4 linked regions of the Homo sapiens genome follow. The main gene of each other region encodes a partner of the protein of the gene in region 4 in a complex. Each region holds a gene or a part of one and is shown on either strand. Other genes may lie near its edges. A codon is read from its position in the direction of its gene.

Region 1 (7,023 bases), on a different chromosome or scaffold from region 4:
CCCAGCCCAAACTATAGAATATTTTGAAAAGAATTTTCTTAATAAGTTATTTTGCCTCAAGTCTCAAAGCAGAGTTTGGCCACCGTTTTTCATACTTTCATCAGTAGCCCCAAACGTTCACTTTCCTTTAAGAGCTGCCCTGTAGCTTTGCTTCAGAAAAAGCCTTGAGGAATATTTGGTCTTAAGATAATTTGGTTCTTTCTAATATAGGGCTTATATCAAGGGTTAAGACAGCCTGAGACCCTGGCTGGATGTGCTTGATGGTCACCAAGACTGTACAAGTTTTGATTGACCATCCTGCCATTCTTAAATTTATATATATATATATCTTAATTACAGCTACTGTCAATTGAATACTTATAATATACCAGAATTGAGCATGGTGCTTCATACTTTCCAACTTCAGCTTGTTCTAATTCCAAAGCCTACATACTTTCCACTAGACCACAGGTCTTCCCAAGTAGTGTAATTAGCTAAAAATTCTCTTGATGACTTCCCTCATTCACTCACTCTTTCACCACAAATGTAAATACTTTCAGGCTGGGTAAATCATTTAATCATGATTACTGTGATTAAATAAAAGTTAACTTTAAAATAAATGAACAAATTTCTTCACCTGAGAACTTATGTAAAACATCTGACCTTACCCTTCCTCCCTCAAATACAGGGGGCAGAGGAATTAAATGAAAGCTGGGTTAAAAAAAAAAACAACAAAAAAACTGATGCCAATGTATAAAAGGGTATTGAGCATGTAAAACTCAGCAACTGTAGCAAGCATCCCATAAACATAAAAATCAATGTACAAGTGTTCCCTGAGTTGCAGCCTGTTCTTGTTAAGGCTAGATTCTCTCTCCATCTCCTCTGCTCTCACTTCCCCTGCAAATAAATTCCCTTATTCCACTGCTAATTTCAGAGCTAGAAAGAATTTATCTTCCCAGTTAGGTTTTCAGAAGAAGCCCGGGGTTTGTAGTTACAGAGGCATAGCTTGGATTCTGATTCTTTGATGTACAAATTATGAATTTGTGTAGATTACTTAACCTCTCAGAGTCTCAAGTTATTTGCATAATGGGGATAATTTGATCTACATGATGAAGCTGTTGAGGTTTAAACAATAGGTATGAAGTAGAACTAATGCCCAGTATATAGTAGGTATTTTCTAAAATAGGTTTATAAATTATGGCTATGTTCCTATGCCAGTCCACAAATGCGAATTTATACCACTTAGGATCAAGGGCATTATATGTAGTGATACAATTATATATGAAATTAAAATTCATGAAAACCTTTATGTAATAATTTTTTTTTTTTTTTTTTGGAGACAATCTCGTTCCATTGCCCAGGCTGGAGTGCAGTGGCGCGATCTCGGCTCACTGCAACCTCCGCCTCCAGGGTTCAGGCGATTCTTGTGCCTCAGCCTCCCGAGTAGCTGGGACCACAGGCATGTGCCACCCCTAATTTTTGTACTTTTAGTAGAGATGGGGTTTCACCATGTTTGCCAGGCTGGTCTCGAACTCCTGACCTCAAGCCATCCAGCCACCTTAGCCTCCCACAATGCTGGGATTACAGGCGTGAGCCACTGCGCCCAGCCACTCTATGTGATAATTCTTAGTCTTATCCTCACTTGGCTAGTTTAGTACCTTTCACATCACTTTCTTAAAACAGTTTCTTCACTTGGCTTTTGGGTCACCTACCTCATTTGCCACTTGTTTTGTAACTTAATTTGTCCTCTTATCTTTGGAGGGCTCAAATCTCACTCCCTAGAGCAAGCCCATGTATTTTTATGGCTTTACATATCATTGACAGGTTCCAAATTTTTATCCTGCCTATTCAGTATCTCTGCTTAGAAGCAGACATCTCAAATATGTCTAAAATGAACTCCTGATTGCTCCCCTACCCCACATCACCTCCCTGCAAAAGTGGCTCCTGCTGCTTTCATCTTCAGGATTTTATCCAGAATATAACTGTTGCACAGCCCCATGGCCACACGAGGTCCATGCCACCATAATTTCTTGCCTCAATTATTGAAATATTGTTTCTTCCCTTGTCCTCTTACACTCTATATTGAACACAGCAATCAAAGCATTCCTTTTAAAATGAAAGTTGGCTCCTGTTACTGCTCTGCTCAAAACCCTTCGATGGCTTCCCATGCCACGCAGTGTGAAAGCCAGAGTCCTTATGATGGCCTTCAAAACCGCATGATCTGGCTGTTCCCCTCATCCTCAATCATAGGGTTTGGTGCTTTCCTCCTTCCTTTCATTCTGCTCCAGCCCTAGCCTCCTTGCTTTTTCTTGCCAAGTGTGCCCTACCCCTGGGCCTTTGTATTTGCTGTTCCCTCTGGCGAGATACTTATATTGCCTACTTCCTCTCTATCTCCATCAACAGATGATCTCAGGAGATGTCAGATGCAGCACCCTGCATCTGGAAGTGTGCTGGAAGCTGGAAATAGAAATGGTTTAGTTCTAGGACAGAGCCATGACATAATAGGTCCTCAGAAAATGATTGCTGACTTAATAAGAGAAAATAAAAAAGGAGCTTTCAGTTGATTGTAGTTTACAATACAATATAAATAAGCAGTACGTTACTATTTCTATTATCAATTTAGGGAACAAAAATATCTACAGTTACACAAAAATGGCCACACATGGTGGCACTAACTAGATTGTCATGAGTGACCCAGAAACTCACCCTTTGGGAGTGCTTGTGTAACAGTGTGTTGAATGCAAGAGGCAGGCCACACAGTGCAAAATACCCAAAGAAGATGAAGAGGTCTCTCAGAGATGGTTTGTATTACAAAGTTATCTTCTTCCTCAGCTAAACAGGAGACTCCTCCAAAGAGTTCTACTCATCTCTGGGTTCACTTCACAGAACACATTGTAAAACATGCTCAGTAAAATCCGCTATATTGAATTACATATAACGCCTTGAATTGCACCTGAATGTCTTTTCCTCCTGCCTATCTCCACTGTGTATACTCTATTGTATCACGTGGTGTAAAGATCTTGGTTTCCTCTGCCCAATTTAAAGAATGTATGACACAGGGGGGTGCCGTAAGGGAAAAACCCTACCATTGTTCGTTGACAGTTGATGAGCTGAAGCCACTTACTTCTGAGCCATGAGGGAGGTTTTACTAATAATTTTTCTACTTTGGAGCTCTGTGATTATTTGGATCTCTGCAGCGTAGTATAGGGCTGCCCTTCCAAAGTGTGTTGAGAAGGGCCTTAAAAGATGATATACAAAAAAAGGGGGATTCCATAGCCAAATAAATTTGGGAAGTGCTGGATTAATGTTACTGGTGTTCTTTACTGAAGGATATCTCAGAAAACTTACTGTGCCAGCATGCTTTATGAATCCTCAAGACAAGGTTTACAGCATTTCCCAAGTGTTTGGCTATGTTATCTTGTTTGTGAGGCACTGTCCAGGAACTAGTGTTTCACAAAAGAGTATTTTGAGAAACTCTGATCAAAGTGTGAACTCTGGTAGGAACTTTATAAGGAGCATTTCACTGCCTTTCTGGATTGCTATGAGAAGCCAATTTTAAAGCCAGTAAGTGGCTAAGTGGACATTAAAAGGGTCTTTGATGTCATCTGGTAATGTAATTACTGAATATGAAATAATGCTTTGGTTTTTTAACCCTAGACTTGGAATGGAAAATTATCTATGTGGGCTCTGCAGAAAGTGAAGAATACGATCAAGTTTTAGACTCTGTTTTAGTGGGTCCTGTTCCCGCAGGAAGGCATATGTTTGTATTTCAGGTAAGATTAATCTTGGTAAATGTGTATGCCAAATATGTTTCGAAGTAGACTATATTATCTATTATCTTATAACCCTTATCCCTTTCCTTTTGGGTTAAAGAACTGCTTCTGCTGCATTCACTTTAAATCTGTTTCCATCATGTTTTAGGCAGTCTCTGTGTCACAGAGGAACTCTTACTTCCTGGTTTTATATGCTGAGAGATGTTAATGTGACGTTTACTTTAGAGAGATGAACAACCTACAGTAAATTTTATACTGTATCATGGCACACAGGGTGGTGAATTTGGGGCTCTTCCTGTGAATAGCACCTCAGTATCAGACTTCCAAGGTGGCTGTCTAGCAACCCAAAACATGGATTCAAAATATCTAAAACTAACTGGCATTGTTAGTAATATGCATCTTCAGTTTATGGTTTCAGCCACTGGAACTGATGGTGATGTAACAAAAACAACTTTATTTCAGCATAATCAGTAGTTGAGCTAGGTTAACAGATACGTTTAGTGGATAGAGATGTGTGGTCTTGGGTCATTGGAATGACATTCCAGAGTTTACTAAAGCATCTTATAATCTACATTATCTTATAAGAGGACTACTTTTGCAAATTTACTACCCCACTAGGTATTTGTGAAGAGAATTTCTAGTAATAAAAATTTTGTTCTTAGATACCACTGAGAGTATTTGGATCTATACCAAGGCTTCAGACATTGTCTTCTATATTCAAAAGTGTTATTTCTTTTAATCCATGTTAAATTGCTATATGGAACCATTCAGTTATTCCTCAATTATGCATGCTTATTTATAAGGGAGATGTTTGTAATAGACCAAAGAGTAACTAGCCATAGGTTTTTTAAAACTACTATTAATTTCTGTTACAAGTATTTCAACCCAGCAATGTCCCATCAGTTAAGTGGAACTCACTGAAAAGACTTAATCCAGAAAGAAAATCTAACTCTTCCTATGCCTGACCTCTGTTTTCTCACTTCACAGATGGGACCAATTTAAATGAATACCATTGGTCAAATAATCCCATCAGAAACTGGCAAAGAATCACTTAGACACATGCCATCTCTAGAGCTGCTACCTTTCCCTCCCCTGTCCTAAATACAGAATTTAGAATCTTGGTTTCCTAGCCTTAGTACTTTTGATTAAAAAGCAACAAATAATTTACTGTATCTAAAGAAATAGCTAAGAAAAGCTCAAATATACTAATCAAATATATGAATTAAAAGTGCTGTTAATCAAAGTTGTGTGAGTGCATAACCATGTAAAAGACATGGGTAACAGAATGCCCTGTTCTGTAGAAGGAAGCACTGCAGTTATAGATATAGGTCAAATCCCGACACCTCTGTATTAGCCATGTGTGGCTTTACCTCTCTAACCTCCTCCCTTAGTCATTCCAGTCTTCTATAAAATGTGGATAATATTCTATCTCATTAAAATGTTATGGGGAATAAAACAGTATAATCAGTCACTCATAAAGAGTGCCCTATTCCTAAAATTAGAACTACATTTTTATTCTCTTAACTTCTTGAAATTGTTATATAAAAAAGCAGGACTTGCTCTGACCCACAGGCCTAAGGAACCCATACTTTACTGATAATTCATGATACAGTAAAAGAAACCTGGGTTGACAGGTACTGATAATACTTTTTTTTTTTTTTTTTTGGCTACTATAAGAACTTACAAATAAATGCCTTGTTATTGAAACAAACCCTTGAAAATCTTTTGTGTTTGTTATTAAGCATACTCCTAAGCTTTTGGCTGAAAGTGCTGTAGCAAAAAAAATGTATTCAAAAGTATTTCCTGCTGGTGATCTTCACGTAGTTTTACCTTGGTGTCAGTGTACATGTTGCCAAAAAGAACAGAGGAGGTACAATGTATATTCAGCCTAAAGGTTTTACAGAATTCACCATTATCAACAGAAAGAGACTAAATTACAGCTTTTGTTTTGTATTTTAAAACTACTATAGTAATCTCTTGGTCTGCCATGATTTTGCCTCTCTAAATAGTTAAACATGTCTTTCTTCTGAGTGAGTCAAAGGCTAGCAGGAAGATGTCCAGACATCTGCCTAGTATTGCCAGCTAGAGTCAAAACAAAGATCTCTGCTCATTACTTCTGCATCCTAAATTATTTGAAAGGCCTGTAAGCTTCTCTACTTAAATTTGCTCAAACTGAATCTTTTTCAAATTGTAAAATGCTTTTTAAAAGATGTTTTATATTTACAACAGATTTTAAAACAGAAACATGCCTAGAACCAATTTACTGAAGGGAACCAATTTACTGAAGGGAAGGGGAAGAGTTCTCATAGCAGTACTGAACTATTATATATTTCCCATCTCCACCCACTTCAGGTATATTAGAATCCGTTTGGGTACACTGAAAGTAATCTAACCCCTCTGTGCAGGGGTGTGTAGAATCTCTAAGACAAACAGCATATTCTCCAGGACAAGGCTGGCTGTCCCCTATCCTGGTGTCTTGCCAAGAGATCATAAACCCCTTCAGGGCAGGAACTGATTTACAAATGAATTCCAAAATACTAAGTGCTCAGAGCTGAGCCACACGAGATTATAAAGATGAACTGGATGGGACTCCTGCCCTGGATAAAGCATAGCATCTAGAAGAGAAGACTGAAAAATAAACATGTTTAGATCACAGGGCATACGTTCTTAGATAATTTGTGACAAGAAATATCAGCACATAAAAAAGGAATCTATTGATTCTACCTTCTGAGTTAGAAAGGGCGTCACTGAGAATACACTCGATGTAAGCTCCAAAAAAGATTAAAAGATGAATTTTTCAGGATGTGAGCGAAGGACCTTTCAGGCCAAGGGAACAGTATGTTAGAAGCACAGGGGGTGAAGTATTTCTTTTTTAAATTTGTTTTTGTAGAGATGGGGTTTCGCCATGTGGCCCAGGATAATCTCAAATTCCTGGGCTCAAGTGATCCACCCACCTTAGCCTCCCAAAGTGCTAGGATTACAGGCGTGAGCCACCGTGCTCAGAGCGTGAAAAGATTATCACCACGTTTTAAAGAACCTGTGTGATTCATATCTCTAGAACAATGGTGGAGTTAAAGGAGGTATGAATGGAGATATTGGCTGGAGACAAACTGAGAAGGGCCTTGTCAATGAAGTTAAAGAACTGAGATTTTATCCCTTAGAAAAGGGAATACTCTTCTGAGGGTTTTAATAATCTGAGGTTTTAAAACCAAAGAGAAAGAACATATCTGTGTTAATGCTGGTAGCAGTGCAAATGATAGGCTAGAGCTGG
Region 2 (7,023 bases), on a different chromosome or scaffold from region 4:
AAGAAGCTAAAAAACTTGTCCTGGATCTTATTCCAGGTCTGCTGGATTCCAAAGCCCAAAGCTCCTTCTACCTACCATGCAAATTCCGTTTTAATTAATCACATCTTTATTGGTTCTTGGTATCAGCTTTATAAGCAGGTAAAATAAATGTGGAGATTGAAAAATTTAAACAAATGCTCTTGCTTGCCGATCTGGGTCAGTGTCTGGGAGAGTTGCTCTTGGTCAGGATGATGAGAAGGGAAAATGAGATTGTGGCCTTCATTCTTTTGGCTGAAAACATTTTCTTGGGGCAGCTTGTCTCACTTTAGTTTAACCTTTGGTGCCTTACATAAAGCTGCTCACATAAAGTGAGCAGATATGTCTCACTTTAGTTTAACCTTTGGTGCCTTACTTCTGTAGATTTGTAGGAAAATTCTCGGACCATATGGAACCGCATTTCAGGTGTATTTTTGTTTACTCATATGCTGTGGTGCTTGGGGGATTTAAACGGGGTTGAAGAAAGGGAAGTCTTAACATTTATGTTACTATCCCAATTTCTACTCCTTATCAATGGCATTTCCCTGGGTTGTCCTAACCTTTATCCTTTCCTATTTGTATCAAGGGCTAATATTCCAAAGAATGCCAAGGAAGTAGAATAATTTTTAAAACCTATTAATAGCTGACCTGCCCATATTAACACAGGCTAGCTGATATGGTCCAATGGAGCAGCAATCTCCAGGTTCCTACATTTTATAGTTTGATTCAGAATGGAACACTCTCTCCATCTACTGACATTTATGCGTCAGATACGGTACTAAGCACACCTTGTATGTTCTCATTTAATCCTTATATAAATGACTTACCCATTTTACAAAAGTCAGGATCTGAACTCAGGTCTAATTCTATAGACATTACTATTTATTATTTATAAAGGTCTTATAAGATAGCTGAATTTTCTACATTTTTATCTTTTGCCATGTACCTGCTCCATAGCCCAGCAAAACTGATCCAAGAACATGTATCTTTCTCTCAGGTGGACTCTGTGCTTCGAGGGACTGAGCCTTTGCCTTCCACCAAGGTGGTCTGGGGGACTTTTCTTCCCTAAAGTCAGGTAGATGCTGTAGAAAGGCATGGGACTGCTGTTACAAACCTAATCTGATGGCTTCACTCAAATTCATAATGGCTGTTGAAACAACTCCACTGACTTTCCAAAGTGAAGATGGTGGTGACAGGAACAGTCCCCTGTTTGATTTACTGAGGGCTCAGCTGCCAACTTACTAGGTACACAAGGGATAAATGACTAACTGCTGTCAGGCAGTATCTCTAACAACAAACCCCTCACCACGTGAAGTCTCTCTGCAGTGTAACTGACCTGGCTCTTGCTAGCTGTGTCATCCTGATCTTGGACAAGTCACTCTCTCAGGCTCAGTTTCTCTTCCATAAATATCGATGATAATACCTGCTGGACCTATGTCACAGGTGTGTTAGGAGGAGAAAACAAGGTGTATGGATCTGCTTTAAAACCTGACAACTACTATATAGAAATTGCATAATAATAAATAAAATGATTTTTTAAATGGAAATAAGAGTTGGATTTCTGTGTCTTGTTAACTTGTCAATGTTCAGTTATTGATATCAGAATTCCCATTTCACTTTTTTATATTTTAGGATAGCCAAAGAGAACAAAGAACAAATCAAGGTAGGCGAAAAATGGGAGTTGCCATTACTGCTGTCAAATACACTCAGTTTTCTAGGTAAGTTTGAAGTTAAAAATACTCCGAATTTATTGGTAATATATCTGCTGCAGGTCAAATACATCAAATTTTATCATATGAACAAAACTACTGGGTATTATTTTGTGGCCAAGCTCAAAGAAGATAACTTTTAGAGGGCAGGGAAAGGATCATCAGGAGCTCTGGGGTGGCACTATGAAGAGATACTTTTTCGGAAAGTTTATGAGAAATTTTCAAATAACCCAGCCGGCTGCTGTAATCCAAGAAACCACAGACTGAAAAGCAAAGCTGGGTAAGCAGAGGTCACAGCCTGAGGACTGAGGCCCCAATGCCTACAAAACTGCGGGGTTTCTATCAGTTTGTCGGGCTGTATGCTATGAAATGAAGTCTGACTTACTGAGATGGTCAAACATTTCTGCCATGTGGGATTACTTTCTGCCCACTCACCAGGCTGCCAGATCAGCCTAGATACTCAGAAATGTGCCCTTATCTTATTAAAGCAGAAAACGGAAGGAATAAAAGATGCTACGGAAAGTTCTGTAGACAGGCATAATCCTAAACACATGCCAAAATGGCGCACCAAAAAGAAAACCAAGGCAGTGGTCCTTCCACGGGCCTTGCTGTCCTCTTAAAATAGTGCCGTGGTTTTGCATGCTTTTAGAAACATGGATGCTGCCTTTCTCAATATATGGGTGCAAAATATAATGCAGTACACTTGATAATTCACATAAATATTATTCACAATTTAAGAACCCAGATTTGTTTTTTTTAAGCTGCCAGAGATCACTATAGCTAATAGAGAGTTTATAGTCTGTGATTAGATGCCTCTTAGGCTATGAATTTTTAACATCTGCTAGTGTGTTGAGGGCTTGATTACAGGTTTATGGGTTTTAGAATTAAAATCAAATTTTGTAACCTCATTATAAACATATTTCCACTTAAGTGATGGGTGATTTACACCCAGAATACAGATATAATTGTGGGCTTTGTTTACCTGTGTTTCTCACTAGGACTCTGTTCAGATAGGGCCAAAAATGAGAAACTGCTTACTTTTTCATGCTTGTGTTTCTCCTTCTCTTTTTCTCTCTTCTCTCGCTCTCTCTTCTCTTTCTCTCTTTCCTTCTCCTTCTTCTCCTTCTCTTTTTCCTTCTTTTTCTTCTTCTCCTTTTTGTCCTTTTTCTTTTCTTTCTCCTTCACCTTCTCTTTCTCCTCAAACAGTTTTTCCGGAAGCACTGGCAACAAAGATGGCAGCATGGCTGGGACCCTGGAGGCTGTGGCAGGGCTGAACAAGGGCAGGGCCAACTCTTTTGGGGGCAACACCAGTGGGGGTGCTGGGGCTTTCATCTTATCTTCTCTGCCTTTATCTTTCACTTTTTCTTTCTCTCTCTTATCTTTATCTTTCTTGCCTTTCTCTCTATCTTTCTTCTTATCTTTATGCTTCTCTTTCTCCTTCCTCACAAGTCCATCTTTCAATTTCACTTTGGGATCAACATCTTCAAATTCTTTGATTTTAAACTTGTAGGGATCTGCCTCTTCCTCTTTAAGAAATTCCTTCCAGGGATACTTTGTTTCCCTGCCAGTTTCCTTGTCTTTCTCTTTCTCTTTCACTTTATCCTTCTCCTTACTTTTGTCCTTGTTCTTGTCTTTTTCCCTCTCCCTATCTCTCTGCTTTTCTTTCTTTTTCATTTTAGTCTTTAGTTCCTTTTTCAACTTCTTCTTTACCTCCACGGAGGAAGGCAGCTTGGTTTTCTCCTCATACACCTTGTGGAGAGGTTCGGGAGTGGGAGGAGACACTGACGGAGAAGAGATATAAGGAAAGTTGGGGGGCATATTTGAAGGTGTTCCCAGTTTTGCTTTACGTACAACCTCATCAATGGAGGCATCCATTGTCCATGAGTTATCGGAACTTGAGGTTCCACCGGAAAGAGGCAGAGGAGTGGATCCTGACTTTGTGAAATTGTTCGCGGAAGTGGAAGCTTTGGGAGTAGTACACTCCGGGCCTGAAATTCTCTTAGGGCTAGTAAAAATGTCTCCTTCAGATTCCGATCCAGAAGAAAATTCGAAAGGATCTGGCTCTCGCTCAGCACAGGCTCGTGCAATCACAGCATCGATAGAGGCCTCAATCGTTTTATCTGCTACCACAGCCTTTTTCGGCTGATTCTCACTGTTCAGTTTCCCAGCATCAGGGGGTGTCTGTATTTGTTTTACCTGGATAGTCTCTTTACTGATTTTTTCACTGAGTGTAGCTGAAGGAGTCCTGTTGGGCGTTTCAGGTCTCACAGGTGTTTGGGGAATGTGAGTCGTGACCTTGGGGCTCTTGGGACTCTTGGGGCTCTTGGAACGTCCAGGTGATTTCTTTTCTTTGGATACAGTTTTTGGTGATCGAATAGGACTTCCGACCATTGCTGGTGACTGGGCGGTTTTAGGTGATTTAGTCTTCTGTCCTGGAGAGCTAGTTTTAGTCTTTGTTTTAGGTGTAAATGACTTTGTTTCTAATGGTTTTGCAGTTGGCATTTGTGATTTTGCAACTGGAGCCAACATTGGCGGCTCGGGTGAGGGAGGTGCCAAGTCTGTACTGTCCTGTACATGGACTGGAGAAAGCATTGGTGGGATCTTTTGAGTATTTATTGAGCTGAGTGGCTCTCGAGCTTCCAATAACACAACATCTAGCGTGTCCCCTTTAGTGCTTAATAGCCGAGGCCGCTTCATGGCTGGCAGTTCTTCAGCTTCAGGACTATCCAGTGGTCTCTTGCCCAGGAAATTCTCATCATTAATAATTTCTTCCTCCTCCAATTCATCATCTTCTTCCAAGGGAACCTGCATGGCTTCTGCTGATGTGCCTCCATCAGTGGGCACCTGCTCTTCTTCTTCTTCTGGTAAAGGAAGAAAAAGGAAGAAAAAAATAAATATTATTGGAATGTAACAAAACCTAAGAAATAAAAACAATGCTTCAAATATGATTTCTTTTTTCTTTCTTTTTTATTATTATACTTTAAGTTCTAGGGTACATGGGCACAACATGCAGGTTTGTTACACAGGTATACATGTGCCCTGTTAATTTGCTGCACCCATCAACTCATCATTTACATTAGGTATTTCTCCTAACGCTATCCCTCCCCCAGCCCCCGACCTCCCAACAGGTGCCGATGTGTGATGTTCCCCTCCCTCTGTGTCCATGTGTTCTCACTGTTCAACTCCCACTTATGAGTGAGAACATGCGGCGTTCAAACATGATTTCTAAAAAAAAAAGGAAATTATTGACAGTGTTTAAAAAGTAAGTTAGTTTTCAAGGATCTTCCAAACATGTGTGCCATCATTCTTAAAAGAGTGGCAGTCAGTAACAGCAGATGTACAAATTGATCATTGTCCTTTCACATGGTCTGGCCCTAACCTCAGGATCTGGAAATTGCTCGGTATTTCCAGTTGGCCTTCTGTTGTTTCCTGAATTAATTATTTTCCTAACCAGTAAATGCCATCTTTCTCTATCTCTCTCTCATGCACATAGAAGCACACGTGCGCACCCACACACCCTCTAAAAAATCAAGAGATGGATTATTATAGGACTTAGTATGGATTATTATTATTATCAGGAATGACAGGTATTTTTAGGACTTTTATGACAAATTCATATACTACTTATGTCTTCTATTTTGCTTGCTTGATGTGAGCCACTTGGAGAGGGAGTATGGTGCAATGAAATACACTTGGTTTAGGCACTTGACAAATGGTTTTTCGGCTAGAGTTACGGCACTAGAGAGCAACCAGCCTTAGGGACTCTCTCAACCTCTCTGAGCCTGTTTCCTAATCTTTCAAAAAGGAGCCGATGTTACTTGCCCTGCCTACTTGGCTGAGTTTTTCTAAGATCAGATTATTTCTCCCAACACATTTTAACTAAGCATATAATGTACAATGATAAAGTCTAAAAGAGCCACTGAAATAAATCAGAAATAAATCACAACTAAAAGAGCTCACAGTTTAGTGCAGCAATAACAGATATGTCTAGCCCACAGAAAGTGATCAGTGCCACAGACAGATAAAGTGCTACAGCAGGTCAAAGGAGAGACAGATCTCAGCGAGGTCAATCATGCGGAGGAGGCTTGATTAATTATGCAGCGTTTGGGATAGTTGGAGACTGGAAGTGGTGAAGTCCAGGACAAAGGGTCAGATGACAAATAGATGAAGGTGAAACACGGGGAGTGTAAGAGAAACAGAAAATTATTTGTCTGGAAAGTAGAGTGCAAGGTGGGGAGCAGTAGGAAGCAGGTTTAGTAAAATTGCATCCAGATCCTAGGACTTTTGAATTCCAGAAAAAGAAACATAATCTTTATTCTACTGGTAGTTTGGACCTAGAAGGATTTTAGACAACAGAGAAAAACGTGTGGGGTATGTGTTGGGAAAAGTCACACTGGCAGGAACACGCAGGATGGATGAGGGTGGGAGGTGATGGGTACTGAAGGAGAGCAATAACATGGATTACTGAAGTGATGTGAGAGGCAGTAAGGGTCAGAGCTAGAACAGTGGAAATGATCAGGAAGCAGCAGAGGTGAAGGATATTCTGAGGATAGAATGGATAGAATCTGATAAATGATTAGGGTATAAGACTTGAGCAAGGACTCAAACACAATTTCAAAGCTTTGAGCCTGGTCAGGCATGGTGGCTCATGCCTGTAATGCCAACATCTTGGGAGGCCGAGGGAGTAGGATTACCTGAGCCCAGGAGTTTGAAACCAGCCTGGGCAACATAGTGAGACCCCATCTTTACTAAAAAATACAAAAATTAGCTGGGTGTTGTGGTGCGTGCCTGTAGTCCCAGCTACCTGGGAGACTGAGGTGCAAGGGTCACCTGAGCCCAGAAGGTTGAGGCTGCAATGAGCCATGATTGCGCCACTGCACTCCAGCCTGGGCGACAGAGCGAGACCCTATTTTTAAAGAAAAAAAAAAGGGAAAGAAAGCTTTGAGCCTTGGTGAGTGATAAATGTAGTGATGAACAGAAACAGGAAATAAGGAAATAGAAAAGGACAATGATTATTAGCTCAATCCCTAGACACAGAGTTTGATGAACATTTAGTCTGCAATGCCTACTCGGCAGCTGAAATATAATACAGATGATCAGAAAACAGGACAGAGTGCATGAGAGAAAGAGTGTTGTTGAGATAACTAAAGTCACCATGATGGATGATATGAACAAGGAAGAAACAAGAGGAAACAGGTTCAGGTATTTTGAGGAATACCTATATATAAAAAGAAAAGGAAGAAGAACTAAAGAAATACATGGAGGGTCAGATGTCAAAGAGATCAAGGGAGCAAGAGTT
Region 3 (7,325 bases), on a different chromosome or scaffold from region 4:
TTAGAGCATGAGAAATTTGGTACCAACTTCCTTTATGAGCAATTTTGATGAAATGACATTGATAAATGACCTCAGTTCTCAGAATATTAATTATAGGAACTCAACTGAAGAAAATTAGAAATATTAATCCAAACCAATGGAATGGTTCATTGGACTGCACTTGATAACCACTGCTTTGTTTCCAACATTTTATGCAGGTAGATTTAGCGCTTTTTAAAAAAGGCACAAAGGCCTTCATCTACAAAAATTAGGGTACTTTAAGAAAGCTCTGTATCTAATGTTTCCCAGCTTTCAAGTAGATCAAATAGAATTGGAATCTTAATATGATGCAAACATGACCATTCCCAATTTCTTTACCCCTGCTGTGTTCCTTTTTTTCATAAACCCTACTGCCTCTACCTGCAGAACGGGATCAAATTGCTTAGTCACTAAACTCCACCATAAAACCACCTCACAAGAGGACCTGACTCCCACCAACCATGAAAGAACAAGATACACTATAAAGTGAAAAACAGATGCTTTTATTTATTGTATTGGAAACAACTTAATAATTTGCATCTCTACATATAGAAAGCTGCTTTGAATAACTGGGAAAACAATTATTGCATAGGAAAACATATGCAAACTAGCATCATTGTCTCTAGACTAGGTTCTTCTTATTGATCTCACGTCATCACAAAGCAGCAACAGCAGCTTCTAGAAAATGGAGAAACAGTAAAGTCCTGCAATGAAGCTATAATTAAGGTTGAACCATACATTCCGCTAATCCTGCAACTTTCCTACAATCATTTTTCTGCCTATACAATCCTGCTTCTTATAGGATGAACACCTAGCAAAACAATATAAATTTGCTGAAAAACAAAATTACAAACAAATGAAAGAACTTAACAGAACACACAGCATTAAAAGGACTAGGAAGAGCAAGGTCTTAATACCCAGTACAATAAAGCCAAGAATTTTCTAATGCTGACCAGTCTGAAGACTGAAATTAAATATCAGTTCTTTTTACTTCTCTAGGAGTGATTCTAGCTCCTCTTGCAAAGAGCTGAGTTGCTCCTTTTCTCGGTCTTCCTTTTGTTTGAGCTCATCCAGTACAGCCTGAAATCTGTTCTTGAGAGCCAGATTTTCCACTTTCATGATGAGATCCTCTTGTCGTTTTGCCCTGTCCTGGGTCTCTTGGAGCTTGCCTTTCATGTTGTCAATCTGCTTCTGAATTCCCATAACCAGCTGATTGGTTCCTTCATTTTCCTGGTGCTGTTCATCTGATTCATTTAGCTTGTCCTGTAGCTGTCTCTCCAGATCTTCCTCCGTGTCAATGATGTTTATATCTTCTTCATCTTGATGCTGGGTCTCATCTTCATCCTCACTGCTGCTGCTGAGGTCATTGAATATCTCCCGAAGCTCATCATGTTCTAATGAGTCATGGCCCTGCCTGTGACCAGACATTCCTGGAGAAGAGATATCCAGGCCTTGATTTTCTGCCTCCTTTGTTTCATCTTCGGCAATTATTTCCCACCGAGTACTAACAGCTTCAGCATCTGTACTCAGCAATCGTTTCACTTCTTTTTCAACATCTGGAGATTCAATATATTTCTTCTTTGCTGTCTTCCGGAACCTTCTCTTCCTGACATTCTTTAGAGGCAGAGTAATTCCGTGGTTCCAGATAAACTTTTTCTCTTTGTCCTTATCCTTTTTCTTGCTTGCTTTAGGATCAGTGCTAGCAACTGGCTCCTCCACAGGAGGATAGAGATCACCATCAACTGTGGATACAAGCATCTGACAGATATCAGCTGTCTTGTAAAAAGTTTTTTTATCAATGGTTTTCAAGCTTTCCATAACACAGGGCAGGTCTACTAATTTTGAGGCCAATGGAACACGGTCCACTCTGACGATTCCATGACGCCCATCAGGATGTAACTCAATTGTCAGTCTGTCCTTGAGGTTGACATGACCAGACTGTACTGCCCTTCTCACAGTAGAGGCATATTCTGGAGGCAGACGTAAGATAAACTGGCTCTCCAGTTCGTGAGGAGCATCATCTTTGCTTTTACTCATCTTTATTTCCTTGTGATTCACTTCTCCAATAAATGCTGGTTACACTAAAAAGTTCCAGCTACTGCAATAGTTTAAAACACCAGTTTGCTATGAATTGAAATCTTTTAATTACAAGAAGTTCTCTGTAGATCAGCAGCTAAGCGTCTATTTTGCCTTAGTTTTTATTTAAGCTCCAAGTCTTTTCTCTAAATATGCTGTGACCGAATACCAGTCGTTAACACAAAGGCTTATTCACAGACTTAAGTTCATTAAATCAGATGCAATGCCAAGTCCCAACCTCTAGGTGCCGCTGCCGGACAACGCGGAGAGAGCTAGCTAGCTAGCTAGGGAACAGGAAAGCAAATGGCGGCTCCCCCGGAACGGTTTTCGGCCCAGAAAGCCCAGCAGAGATACTTTCAACTCACAAACTCTCCCGGAACAAAGACACTCAAAAAATCAGGGCTCAGCGAGCTCTCTTCGCCTCGGGTACTTACAATCCAGTGACGATTATAAGTTCAGTTTCACCGGGCCGGAGCGAAGGGAAGAGGAGGCCGCAAGGAGCCAAGCGGGAGAGAGCCGAGCGTCTCCTTGTCGTTTCCTTAATTCTTCCTGCCGCTTGGCAGAGTGATCCACTACCGATTACTGATGAAAGGGCCCGGGATGGGCAGCGCGAAATCTTGCCGAGAGGCGCAGCTCGCATCACCAGACCCCGCACCTCGCCGGCCCTCCGTCCGGGTCGCCTACCCAGCAAAAACGGAAGTGCTACGTCGCGACGCGGGGCGGGAGGCGGCTGTGAGTGACAGCCCCTCCGGGCGGAAGGGCGGAGCCCCAGCTAGCGCAGGCGCAATAGCGCAATTACGCTGCCCAGCGTGAAACTCATCTTTTCGCGAGAACTTGTTTTTCCGGGATGGAAATGACAGTGTTTCGGAAGAGCTGTTGGTTTCAAACTATTTAGAGCTTGGAAGTTCCAAGAAAGACACAGATTCGTCCCCCGCTAAGCCAGCACTTTTACGGGATCGCTGTGGGGCCGGATGGCTTCTAGACTTCCGGGTGATTCCGGGAGATGGGGGACGCCTTGCAGTAAGCGTCTTTGCTTCTGGAAACATCTCGGATGTTCCCTAGAGTCTAGCCTATCTGGTGCCAATACAAGAATGTGTAGCTACTATACAATGGATTTCAAAGTACCCAAATCAATGGAGTGAGGAGGACATGCAGCTTACTATATAAGTCTCTCTCTATATATATGTTTGTTTGTTTGTTTTGGAGATGGAGTCTCAGGCTGTCACCCAGGCTAGAGTGCAGTGGCACAATATTGGCTGACTGCAACCTCCACCTCTGGGGTTCAAGCGATTCTCCTGCTTCAGCCTCTTAAGTAGTTGGGATTACAGGCACGTTCCACTACCCCACCTAAGTTTTGTATTTTTAGTAGAGAAGGGGTTTCACCATGTTGGCCAGGCTGGTCTCGAACTCCTGACCTGAGGTGATCTGCCTGTCTTGGCCTCCCAAAGTACTAGGATTATAGGTGTGAGCCAGCGCGCATGGCCCAAAGTCTGTATTTTTAAATATAATTCCCTGTAGGGGAATTGTGCCTCTGGTTTTACTTGTGTTCTATAATACTTCTGGGGAAACAAGGGTGATTCCTTTTTATGTGCTTGATTTAGATGTAAATGTAAACAGAGAAGGAAGTGTTCTTTTGGACAGAATTGTCTGATAGACTGAGCATCTGGTTAAAGTAGATATAATTGAAGTATTGTTTCCTGTCTCTCATGTACAAGTAATTTTAAATTACTTTGACATTTTTTTTAACTCCACCTCTACTATTTTGCTGTTTTCTGCTTGTCTTTTCTATCAATAGTCAGGTATTCATCAACACATATTTTTAGTATTTTAACATAACTGGGTAACAGTTGGTACTTATTTCTATTTATTTCCATTTATTTTTAAAATATCTGGGAGAGCATCAAGGCCATTAATATTTCATTTCTATCCTCTAAAATATTAACAATTGCCCCTAAATTTAAGAGAATTCTCTTAAGATGTAATTAACATTTCCAAAATTCACTTTATTCTTGTATGATTGAAAGCTCCATGATAGTGATCTTCTTCTATCCTGGTCATTGTGTCCCAGTGCCTAGTACCAGAATGTGGGAGATACACAAAAAATATTTGCTAATTGAATGAAAAAACTTATCTGTCTAGAAAGATCATAGTCTCAAATCCTGTAGTGATTTCTGAGAGAAAATACATTCTTTGTCATTTTAAAATGAGATAGAGCCACTTTACATACATTTCCTTTCTAGTCAAGGACAATTCTAATTGTTATGAGGTGGGGAGGTTTACTAATAGTGTGTGTGAATGTGGTTTAGCTAGAATGAGATACTGTTGTGGGAGGAAATTAAAATGACCTGACGTTAGTTTGGTTTTTAATGTTAATTTTAAAAGAGAAAGTATGCCCTTCCAGATAACGGTAAATTATTTCTCTTTGCTTATAATGTGTTGAAGAATGTTAGCTGACTTACTTGTAATTTCCAGAATGATCTATTTCCTCTTTTTCAAAGATGAAGTTTTTTCTGTTACAGGCTTGAGCCACCTCGCCTGGCTGTGTTTTGTTTAACCATATACAATGTGAGGTCATTATACATGAAAATAATCCAAATATTACTCAGCATCTTCCCTATGAGTTTTATGATGCTCAAATATTCTTATCATAGAAGGTAACTTGAGATAAATTGTATGCAATTTTTCATTTTCCAAAATTACTGTGTATTTTAGTTTCTAAACCTTTCTTTACATGGAATATTGCCAGACATAGTTAAAAGGATTAACTGAGGTTTTCTTAATGTATCTAGCTCCTTCAGTCCTGAAATACATTTTCTGCTTTTGAGTTTAACACATTTTCTATATGCTGTTTTAGGGGAGGAAATTATATTGACCCTAAATATTTTTTTAAATTGGATTTATCAGTAGACATTAAGATAATCTGCTGGGTGCAGTGGCTCATGCCTGTAATACCAGCACTTTGGGAGGCCAAGGCGGATGGATCATCTGAGGTCAGGAGTTCGAGACCAGCCTGGCCAACATGGTGAAACCCCATTTCTACTAAAAATACAAAAAAAGGGCCAGGCGCCGTAGCTTACGCCTGTAATCCCAGCACTTTGGGAGGCCGAGGCGGGTGGATCACGAGGTCAGGAGATTGAGACCATCCTGGCTAACACGGTGAAATCCCGTCTCTACTAAAAATACAAAAAATTAGCCGAGTGCGGTGGCAGGCACCTGTAGTCCCAGCTGCTCGGGAGGCTGAGGCAGGAGAATGGCGTGAACCCAGGAGGCAGAGTTTGCAGTGAGCCGAGATCGCGCCACTGCACTCCAGCCTGGGCAATAGAGGGGACTCCTTCTCAAAAATAAAACAAAAACAAAAACAAAAACAAATTAGCCAGGCTTGGCGGCGGGCACCTGTAATCCCAGCTACTCGGGAGACTGAGGGAGGAGAATTGCTTGAACCCGGGAAGCGAAGGTTGCAGTGAGCCAAGATTGCACCATTGCACTCCAGCCTGGGCAACACTGGAGCAAAATTCCATCTCAAAAAGAAAAAAAAAAAAAAAGATAATGTGATGTGGCAGTCCTCTGCCTATCACTAAGGCCTAAGGCCTCTGCCACATCACATTATCTTAATGTCTACTGATAAATCCCCAGTTTTTTTTTAAAAAAAAGTTCCATTAGACATTCAGAAAAACTCTGAATTGATGAATTACACTCCTGTGGTTGTTCCATGGAATATCTGTGATACCAGTGAACAAAAGATTTGGGGAGAGCAATAAATTCCCCAGTGTGGTAACAAGTCCTCCAAAGGCTTCCTGTCTGTGATTAAGGAGTGTGGCAATCAGGTTACTAATAATCGTGTATGTTTGAAAATTCCCTTTAATACACTTTCTAGTTCTTTAAAGGGCTCCAAAATATAAGCTGCCCTTTAATACACTTTTTAGTTCCTTAAAGGGCTGCTTATACTTTGGAGGTTAAATTATGGGTGATGGGAGAAATCCTGCTTATATTTAGGAGGTAGAAAATTATAGGGGTGAGGAAATAGCAAATACCACAGAAAAGCCAGCTTACATATTGCTATATCACCATATATTTTAAAGATAAAAAGGTTAACTAAAAATATTTAGCAGTTCTTTTATCTAGTAGGATGTTTTCTATAGGAAAACATTAAAATCTAATTTATGCTGGTTTAAACAGTAAGAAAATCTATGATCCCAAAATACAGGTAGTCTAGCACAGCTTTGTCCTATAGAAATATGATGTGGGCCACAGATGGTCAGCCACAGATGTGATTTTAGATTATCTAGTAGCCACATTCAAATAGCAAAAAGAAACAAGTGAAATTTCAATAATTTTAATCCAATATATCTAAGATATAATTGCAACATATTTTTACAATAATGTAAAGATATTAATAATACGTTTTACATTCTTGTTTTGTACTAAATCTTCAACACCTAGTGTGTGTTTTACACTTACAGCACATCTCAGTTTAGACTAGCTGCATTTCAAGTGCTCAGTGGCCACGTGTGGCTGGTTGTTACTCTAGTGGACAGTGCAGGTCTAGAAGTTTCACTGCCTCTAGGCCAGATACAATCATGGTGTAGCACAAATTGTTTTTTCTTCCTAATTTTGAAGAATGAGCACTTATTTATACTTTTTCTGTTGTTTCAGCTCTGCTTTCCTCTCCTTGTGGAATTCTAAAGGCTGTAGTCACAAGATACCAGCCAGCAGCAATAACTGGAGAACTTTCTTCATTGTCCGTGACAAGAGAGTTACTCTCCCCAAACAGTCTATCTTTCAATCCAACTGGACCAACTTAGGCCATGTTCCCATTCTTAGCTCAGTAATACTAGGGAAATACCCTAAGCCTGTGTTTCTGAAAATGGTTGGGGAGAGGTGAGGTGACATTTGGTAATGTCTGGAGACATTTATGGTTGTCACAACTGTGGGGGGTGGGTCCTACTGGTATCTAGTATATAGAGACCAGGGATACTGCTAAACATTTTACAAGGCACAGAACAGCTCCCCACCACAAAGAATTATATGGCTCAAAATAGTACCAGGGTTGAGAAGCCCTGCTTTAAGCTTATTATTTTAAGTCTATATTCCTAACTAAGCACTGTCAAGAGGATGAGATTATCATTATTAGATTAAATTTATCAGAACCTACTACAGCTCTGAATAGGTTCTGCTTCCCTAGGTACATTAAGGGCGAACACCTAAACTAAAAGGAAGTGTTACAAGAGGAA
Region 4 (7,165 bases):
CCTCCCGAGTCGCTGGGATTACAGGCGCCCGCCACCGCATCCAGCTAATTTTTCTATTTTTAGTAGAGATGGGGTTTCACCATGTTGGCCAGGCTGGTCCCAACTCCTGACTTCAGGTGATCTGCCCACCTGGGCCTCCCAAAGTGCTGGGATTACAGAAGTGAGCCATCGTGCCCAGCCTATTTTTATTTTTTAAAAAATTTTTATTTTACTTTCTGGACAGAACAGTGTGAATATATAAAACCATGTTTTGAATCAAGAATGGTATCTTTAGGTTAGGTGTGGTGGCTCATGCCTGTAATCCCAACACTTTGGGAGGCCAAGGCGGGAGGACTGCTTGAGCTCAGGAGCCCACCCTGGGCTACATAATGAGACCCTGTCTCTACCAAAAAAAAAAAAGAATATTATGTTATCTTTTATATTTATAGGACCTGAAGTCTCCTTCCACATCCTACAAGCCTCTACCTCTCATTGAATCTGCTTTTTCTCAAGCACAAGCATCCAAGAGACAATATGTTGTACTAAATAACTTTTTTTGAGGCAGAGTCTCGCTCTGTTGCCCAGGCTGGAGTGTGGTGGTGCGATCTCAGTTCACTGCCAACCTCCATCTCTTGGGTTCAAGCGATTCTCTTGCCTCAGCCTCCCGAGTCGCTGGGATTACAGGCGCCCACCACCGCATCCGGCTAATTTTTGTATTTTCAGTAGAGACGAGGTTTCACCATGTTGGCTAGGCTGGTCTCAAACTCCTGACTTCAGGTGATCTGCCCGCCTGGACCTCCCAAAGTGCTGGGATTACAGGAGTGAGCCACCGTGCCCAGCCTATTTTTATTTTTTAAAAACTTTTTATTTTACTGTTTGGACCGAACAATGTGAATATATGAAACCATGTTTTGAATCAAGAATGGTATCTTTCGGCTGGGAGCAGGCTGGGAGATAAAAAAAAAAGAATTGTATCTTTAGGTTAGGTGTGGTGGCTCATACCTGTAATCCCAACACTTTGGGAGGCCAAGGCGGGAGGATTGCTTGGGCTCAGGAGTTCAAGACCACCCTGGGCTACAATAGTGAGACCCTGTCTCTACAAAAAAAAAAAAGTTATCTTTTATATTTATAGGACCTGAAGTCTCCTTCCACATCCTACAAGCCTCTACCTTTATTCAGTCTGCTTTTCCTCAAGCACAAGCATCCAAGAGACAATATCGTACTAAATAACTTTTTTTTTTTTTTTTTTGAGACAGAGTCTCGCTCTGTTGCCCAGGCTGGAGTACAGTAGCGCGATCTCGGCTCACTGCAACCTCCACCTCCCGGGTTCAAGCGATTCTCCAGCCTCAGCCTCCCAAGTAGCTGGGGCTACAGATGTGCGCCACCGTGTTGGCTAATTTTTTTGTATTTTTAGTAAAGATACGGTTTCACCATGTTGGCCAGCTTGGTCTCAAACTCCTGACCTCAGGTGATCTGTCCGCCTCGGCCTCCCAAAGTGCTGGGATTACAGCCGTGAGCCACTGTGCGCGCTGCTACGTAACTATCATAAACTACATTAAAAAGCATTCCAAGCTGGGCGCGGTGGCTCACGCCTGTAATCCCAGCACTTTGGGAGGCCAAGGCGGGTGGATCACCTGAGGTCAGGAGTTTGAGACCAGCCTGGTTAACACGGTGAAACCCCGTGTCTACTAAAAATACAAAAATTCGGGTGTGGTGGTATGCTCCTATAGTCCCAGCTACTCAAGAGGCTGAGACTGGAGAATCGCTTGAACCCGGGAGAAGGAGGTCGGCAGTGCACTCCACCCTGGGCAACAGAGTGAGACTTTCTCAAAAAAAAAATAAGAAAAAGAAAGAAAGATCATCCTTTCGCATTCTCCCAATATAACTGATTTAGGCAAGGGACATCAATGAATGCTAAAACCACATTGGGTGCAAGGTCAATGGGGAAAAGAATATTCACAATTTATTCTGCAGAAGGATGGGCTCAGTACCAAAAGACTGAAAAAAAAAAAAGAATATTCACACAATCTCTAAGTACCTGTGGATTACTTAGTAATTACACAGGGTTGTACCTTTGTGATGGAGCAATCTGGTGGTGACTACTTTATCAAGGTGATGAAATTTAGCATCACCAATACTAGGACAACACTGTATTTGACAGTGTACCTTCTGATGGCTGATAAAATATTTAACCTGGGCCGGGCGCGGAGGCTCACTCCTGTAATTTCCAGCACTTGAGGCGGGCGGATCACGAGGTCAGGAGTTTGAGATCAGTGTGGCCAATATGGTGAAACCCCGGCTCTACTAATCATACAAAAATTAGCCAGGGGTGGTGGCGCCGAGATCGCACCACAGCACTTTATCCTGGGAGACAGAGCAAGAGACTCCGTCTCAAAAAAAGAAAAAAAAAAAAAGGCCGGGCGTGTGGTGGCTCACGCCTGTAATCCCAGCATTTTGGGAGGCCGAGGTGGGCGGATCACGAGGTCAGGAAATCAAGACCATCCTGGCTAACACAGTGAAACCCCGTCTCCACCAAAAATACAAAAATTAGCCGGGCTTGGTGGCGGGCGCCTGTAGTCCCAGATACTTGGGAGGCTGAAGCAGGAGAATGGTGTGAACCCAGGAGGTGGAGCTTGCAATGAGCCGAGATAGCACCACTGCACTCCACCCTGGGCAACAGAGCGAGACTACGTCTCAAAAAAAAAAAGGAAACAAGAGAAATTCGGATCATGGAATGTTTTCAAGACAACTTGCCTGGATTCTTCCAAATATTTAGTGTCATGAAAAACAAACAAGAAGGCAGGTGATTCTGGACTAAAGGAAGATGACCAAATACAATGCATGAAACGTGAATGGATCCTAGTATTGGAAAAAAGGGAGAATGAGGAAGAGTGCTATGATGTGGTAAAGAAATTATTTCAGTCTATATTATCATAATATGTGAAAAAAGCAAGGTGAAAGCCGGGGTGTTGGCTCATGGCTGCAATCCCAGCACTTTGGGAGGCTGAAACGGGCAGATTGCTTGAGCCCAGGAGTCTGAGACCAGCCTGTGCAACATGACGAAACCCCGTAAAATGTTCCAACTAGGACAACTGGGGAAATTTAAGTGCGGACTCTTCCTTAAATAATATTGACTTACTTCCTAAAGTTGTGATAAAGGTACTTTGGTTCCATAGTTAAGATGCTTATTTTTAGGAGTGAAGAACAAGATGCCCATAAATGGTTTAGAAAAACAAAAATCCTAGCAAAATGTTAACCATTGTGAGTCTAGGTGAGGGGTCAGCTGTTCATTTTACTAAACTTTCACATTTTCCGAAATAAAACGTTGGGGGAACAAGTATTTTTTTTGAGGCGGGCTGGAGTGCAGTGGCCCGATCACAGGTCACTGCAGACTCCAACTCCTGGCTCCCACCTCAGACCCCCCAACAGCTGGGACTACAGGCACTGGCCACCACATCTGGCTAATTTTTTTGATTTTGTGTATGGATGGAGTCTCGCTTTCTTGTCCAGGCTGGCCTCATACTCGTGGGCTCAAGCGATCCTCCCACCTCGGCCTCTCAAAGTGCTGGAATTACAGGCGTAAGCCACCGCGTCCGGTCAAAAAATCAATTTCTAGGGAAAAATGTCAACTCAAAACAAGTAACCTGCATAGCTCGGGAATGCCTGTATAATTTACGTCAAGTCTCTCCTTGGGACGGACCGGTGAAATTGCACGCAGCACAAAGACCGGCTCTTACCCTTACTTCCGGGTATTGTGGTACAGGAACCCGAGGTTGCCTGCGCGTAAGCCACGTGACTCGAGCAGCTCCTTCTGATTGGAGGAAGAGCCACTGCTCTAATTCGGTGCCGTGAGAAAGCTCGCGCGCGGAGCAGTGGGAGCGGGCGGGACTGAATATTTTCTTTGACCAACCGCTTTCCACATATCCATCCTCCTGATCCCGTAGCGTCGAATCAAAAGCCGTTAGTAAAGTAGTTACTTCTTTCTCTTAGGATAGCCGGTCTTTCCGGGTTTTCCCCCCCTTCCCCCTCCCCTCTCCCCACTTCCCCCTCCCTTTCCCCTCTGTTTTGAGCTTCCGGTAGAGGCTGGTAGGGTAAGGGAGCTCAGTAAGTCACTTCTGGGCGACTGTTGTTTTATTTCCGGTCTATGGGACCCGGCTGCGATTTGCTGCTGCGGACAGCAGCTACCATCACTGCTGCCGCCATCATGTCAGACACGGACAGCGACGAAGATTCCGCTGGAGGCGGCCCATTTTCTTTAGCGGGTTTCCTTTTCGGCAACATCAATGGAGCCGGGCAGCTGGAGGGGGAAAGCGTCTTGGATGATGTGAGGGGGTGGGCGTGGGGGTAGGGCTCGGGGGGTGGGGCTAAGCAGAGGAAGGAGGTGCGGGGAGGAAAGGAGAGGGTGCTCAGGCAGCGAGAACAGGGCGCAGCTAACGCCGGGGAGGAGGATCCCGTCCTCATGGGTGCGGGAGCAACGTGGCGTGGGAGTGATCGTTCTGGGGGAGAGTGGGCAGAAGAGAGCGCGAGGCGAGCCCGGGGCCAGGGGCGCAGGGAATAGTGGCTTTGGAGCTAGCGCTCTGCCGACCAGACAGTAGGACACATGCTGGTTTCGCCTACTGAGATGGCTTCCCACCCGTAACCTGCTTGGAGATTCTTGACACTGCCTGCCCCTCTGACATCGCTGCCCTGAGATGGCTCTATAGAGCCAGAGGACTGGACAGGACCTGCCTCCCGCTCGTTTGGTTCCGGCCTCAGGCTTAGGACAATGGGGTGTTCCTAGCACCCGAGCGGGCCTCCTGGTCACAGTGCGCCTTTTAGGTGGCTCTCCCAGCGTCTTCACTGACTTTCGTGAAATAGTGTCCTGCGCCCTAGTGAAACTACCCTGCCTTCACTTAGGCCCGTTTTCTTGAGGAGTGAAGCTGTCGGCCGCTGTGGCCCCTCCTGTGCCGCAGGCGCATGCGAAACAGGGACCGAACGAGCCCCGCCTCGACGCCTCCAATCCCACTGATCCCCCTGCCTCGGCCCTCGTTCCGAGAACGACCGTTCCATTCATTCAGTCTTGGCAGTAGTTATTTGATTCGTCTTCTCTTGTAGTATACTTTAAAGTGTGGGCGATGCAGTTGGCTGTGGTGCTTTAATAAAGATCTGATCGATGCGGAGTTTGGTAGATGTATATTACAGTTCTCGAACGTGTTGCTTGTTTTGGCACACTGCACAGTCATTTTTCATGTGGATTTGTGACTTTGTCGTGGACCAGGGAAATAAGTCCTGTGGTGTGGGAGTCGTAGGTTTAGTTGTTATCTTCGACTCGTGCTGTCCCTTTTTCAGGAATGTAAGAAGCACTTGGCAGGCTTGGGGGCTTTGGGGCTGGGCAGCCTGATCACTGAACTCACGGCAAATGAAGAATTGACCGGGACTGACGGTGCCTTGGTAAATGATGAAGGTGAAGTCTGGGTTGTGGGGAGTAGGCGGGGGAGGAGGCTAGCCACCTACTATGTATGTACTTTTTTGTGTGTGTAAGACGGAGTTTCGCTCTGTCTCCGAGGTTGGAGTGCAGTGGGGCGATCTGGGCTGACTGCAGCCTCCGCCACCCGGGTTCAAGCATTTCTCCTGTCTCAGCCTCCTGAGTAGCTGGGACTACAGGCACGCACCACCACGCCCGGCTAATTTTTGTATTTTTAGTAGAGACAGGGTTTCATCATATTGGTCAGACTGGTCTTGAACTCCTGGCCTGAGGTGATCCGTCTGGCTTGGCCTTCCAAAGTGCTGGGATTACAGGCGTGAGCCACCGCATCCAGCCTGTACATGTACTTTTAAATGGGAATTATCTGAGGGAGTGAGGGTCGCTTACTGTTGTTGCGATTCTCCCTGCTTTTTTCATAGGGTGGGTTAGGAGTACAGAAGATGCTGTGGACTATTCAGACATCAATGAGGTGGCAGAAGATGAAAGCCGAAGATACCAGCAGACGATGGGGAGCTTGCAGCCCCTTTGCCACTCAGGTGATTCTTTGGTGTATTGGCTTGAACATTCCAGTGCATTATCCTGCTGTATAGTCCAGTTTGGGCTCTGGTTTCTATACCCGCTGTCTGCCATTGTTTCTGCTCTCTATGCCTTTGCTTTGGCTCCTCCACTCCCTTTGTCAGGTCAGTTCCAAGTAGCTGCTATCTTTTTTTGTGTTCTGGCCAGTCTTAACCGTATTCATGTGGTTATTCCTCACACTGTTCAGTCATGAATTCTTAGTTAATGACAAGTAGCTTTCTTGTCACCTGGTATTTGAATACCTACAGGGTTTGTGAGATACACTTCAAAGTTGGAAACTATGAAACAAATTCAGTTTTTGCCCTTAAGGAATGGATAGTTCAAGAAGGATACAACGTCATACATAAGCAATGAACTAAGGCAGGACGTGGTGGCTCACCAGATTACCTGAGGTCGGGAGCTTGAGACAGCCTGACCAATATGGAGAAATCCCGTTTACTAAAAATAAAAAATTAGCCAGGCGTGGTGGCGCATGACTGTAATCCCAGGTACTCGGGAGGCTGAGGCAGGAGAATTGCTTCAAACCGGCAGGTGGAGGTTGCAGTGAGCCGAGATCGTGCCACTGCACTCCAGCCTGGGCAGCAAGAGTGAGACACTCCGTCTCAAAAAAAAAAAAAAAAACCCAATATAAAACAACTGTTTTTTTTTTTTTTTCCGAGACGGAGTGTCTCACTTTCTTGCCCAGGTTGGAGTGCGGTGACACGATCTCGGCTCACTGCAATCTCCACCTCCCGGTTTGAAGCAATTCTCCTGCCTGAGCCTCCCAAGTAGCTGGGACTACAGGGGCCCGCCACCAAGCCCGGCTATTTTTTTGTATTTTTAGTAGAGACAGGGTTTCACCGTGTTAGCCAGGATGGTCTCGATCTCCTGACCTCGTGATCCGCCTGCCTCGGCTTCCCAAAGTGCTGGGATTACAGGCGTGAGCCACCACGCCCGGCCACATCTGGCCAATTTTTTTGTATTTTTAGTAGAGAAGGGGTTTCACCATGTTGGCCAGATTGGTTTCGAACTCCTTACCTCAAGTGACCCTGCTCCCCTCGGTCTCCATAAGTGTTAGGATTACAGGTGTGAGCCACCGCACCCTGCCTAAAACAATGAACTTGATACCTGCTTGCAAATATGTTTTTTTCCTCTCTGGTATAGGGT

What was found.
Region 1: the proteins of TAF1 (region 4) and ASF1A are in contact, whole or in part, in a crystal structure (PDB 3AAD), measured with the Homo sapiens proteins. Residues at the interface, in NP_004597.3 of Homo sapiens: Asp1417, Lys1420, Ile1421, Thr1423, Thr1459, Tyr1460, Asn1461, Gly1462, Lys1464, Trp1527, Asn1534, Lys1536, Phe1537, Val1538, Pro1539, Gln1589, Tyr1590; in NP_054753.1 of Homo sapiens: Val6, Asn7, Asn8, Val9, Val10, Arg69 (codon at 3,732), Val92, Val109, Tyr111, Tyr112, Asn114, Thr120, Glu121, Arg123, Glu124, Leu140, Ser142, Pro144, Val146, Arg148.
Region 2: TAF1 (region 4) and TAF3 share a complex: the UniProt entries of both Homo sapiens proteins name them as parts of the TFIID basal transcription factor complex.
Region 3: the proteins of TAF1 (region 4) and TAF7 are in contact, whole or in part, in a crystal structure (PDB 4RGW), measured with the Homo sapiens proteins. Residues at the interface, in NP_004597.3 of Homo sapiens: Gln591, Ser593, Pro602, Phe603, His617, Arg618, Pro619, Pro620, Leu621, Lys623, Tyr624, Gly633, Pro634, His635, Ser636, Val637, Gln638, Pro639, Leu641, Lys642, Arg651, Arg655, Phe664, Phe665, Met666, Asp671, Leu672, Thr673, Gly674, Lys675; in NP_005633.2 of Homo sapiens: Glu11 (codon at 2,025), Leu12 (codon at 2,022), Glu13 (codon at 2,019), Ser14 (codon at 2,016), Gln15 (codon at 2,013), Phe16 (codon at 2,010), Ile17 (codon at 2,007), Leu18 (codon at 2,004), Arg19 (codon at 2,001), Leu20 (codon at 1,998), Pro22 (codon at 1,992), Ala25 (codon at 1,983), Val28 (codon at 1,974), Arg29 (codon at 1,971), Val32 (codon at 1,962), Gln33 (codon at 1,959), Ser34 (codon at 1,956), Gly35 (codon at 1,953), His36 (codon at 1,950), Val37 (codon at 1,947), Leu39 (codon at 1,941), Lys40 (codon at 1,938), Asp41 (codon at 1,935), Leu43 (codon at 1,929), Thr44 (codon at 1,926), Ile45 (codon at 1,923), Glu46 (codon at 1,920), Leu47 (codon at 1,917), Pro49 (codon at 1,911), Arg57 (codon at 1,887).

Annotation. Positions count from the first base shown.
Region 1 is NC_000006.12:118,897,130-118,904,152, forward strand, and holds part of ASF1A (histone chaperone ASF1A), read left to right. Parts: intron 1-3,636; coding exon 3,637-3,752; intron 3,753-7,023. UniProt on the Homo sapiens protein: Histone chaperone that facilitates histone deposition and histone exchange and removal during nucleosome assembly and disassembly.
Region 2 is NC_000010.11:7,961,482-7,968,504, reverse strand, and holds part of TAF3 (transcription initiation factor TFIID subunit 3), read right to left. Parts: intron 4,586-7,023; coding exon 2,763-4,585; intron 1-2,762. UniProt on the Homo sapiens protein: The TFIID basal transcription factor complex plays a major role in the initiation of RNA polymerase II (Pol II)-dependent transcription.
Region 3 is NC_000005.10:141,317,990-141,325,314, forward strand, and holds TAF7 (transcription initiation factor TFIID subunit 7), read right to left. Parts: upstream 2,796-7,325; 5' UTR 2,056-2,795; coding exon 1,006-2,055; 3' UTR 501-1,005; downstream 1-500. UniProt on the Homo sapiens protein: The TFIID basal transcription factor complex plays a major role in the initiation of RNA polymerase II (Pol II)-dependent transcription.
Region 4 is NC_000023.11:71,362,192-71,369,356, forward strand, and holds the start of TAF1 (transcription initiation factor TFIID subunit 1), read left to right. Parts: upstream 1-4,165; 5' UTR 4,166-4,183; coding exon 4,184-4,303; intron 4,304-4,358; exon of another isoform or gene 4,359-5,307; coding exon 5,308-5,422; intron 5,423-5,862; coding exon 5,863-5,979; intron 5,980-7,165. UniProt on the Homo sapiens protein: The TFIID basal transcription factor complex plays a major role in the initiation of RNA polymerase II (Pol II)-dependent transcription.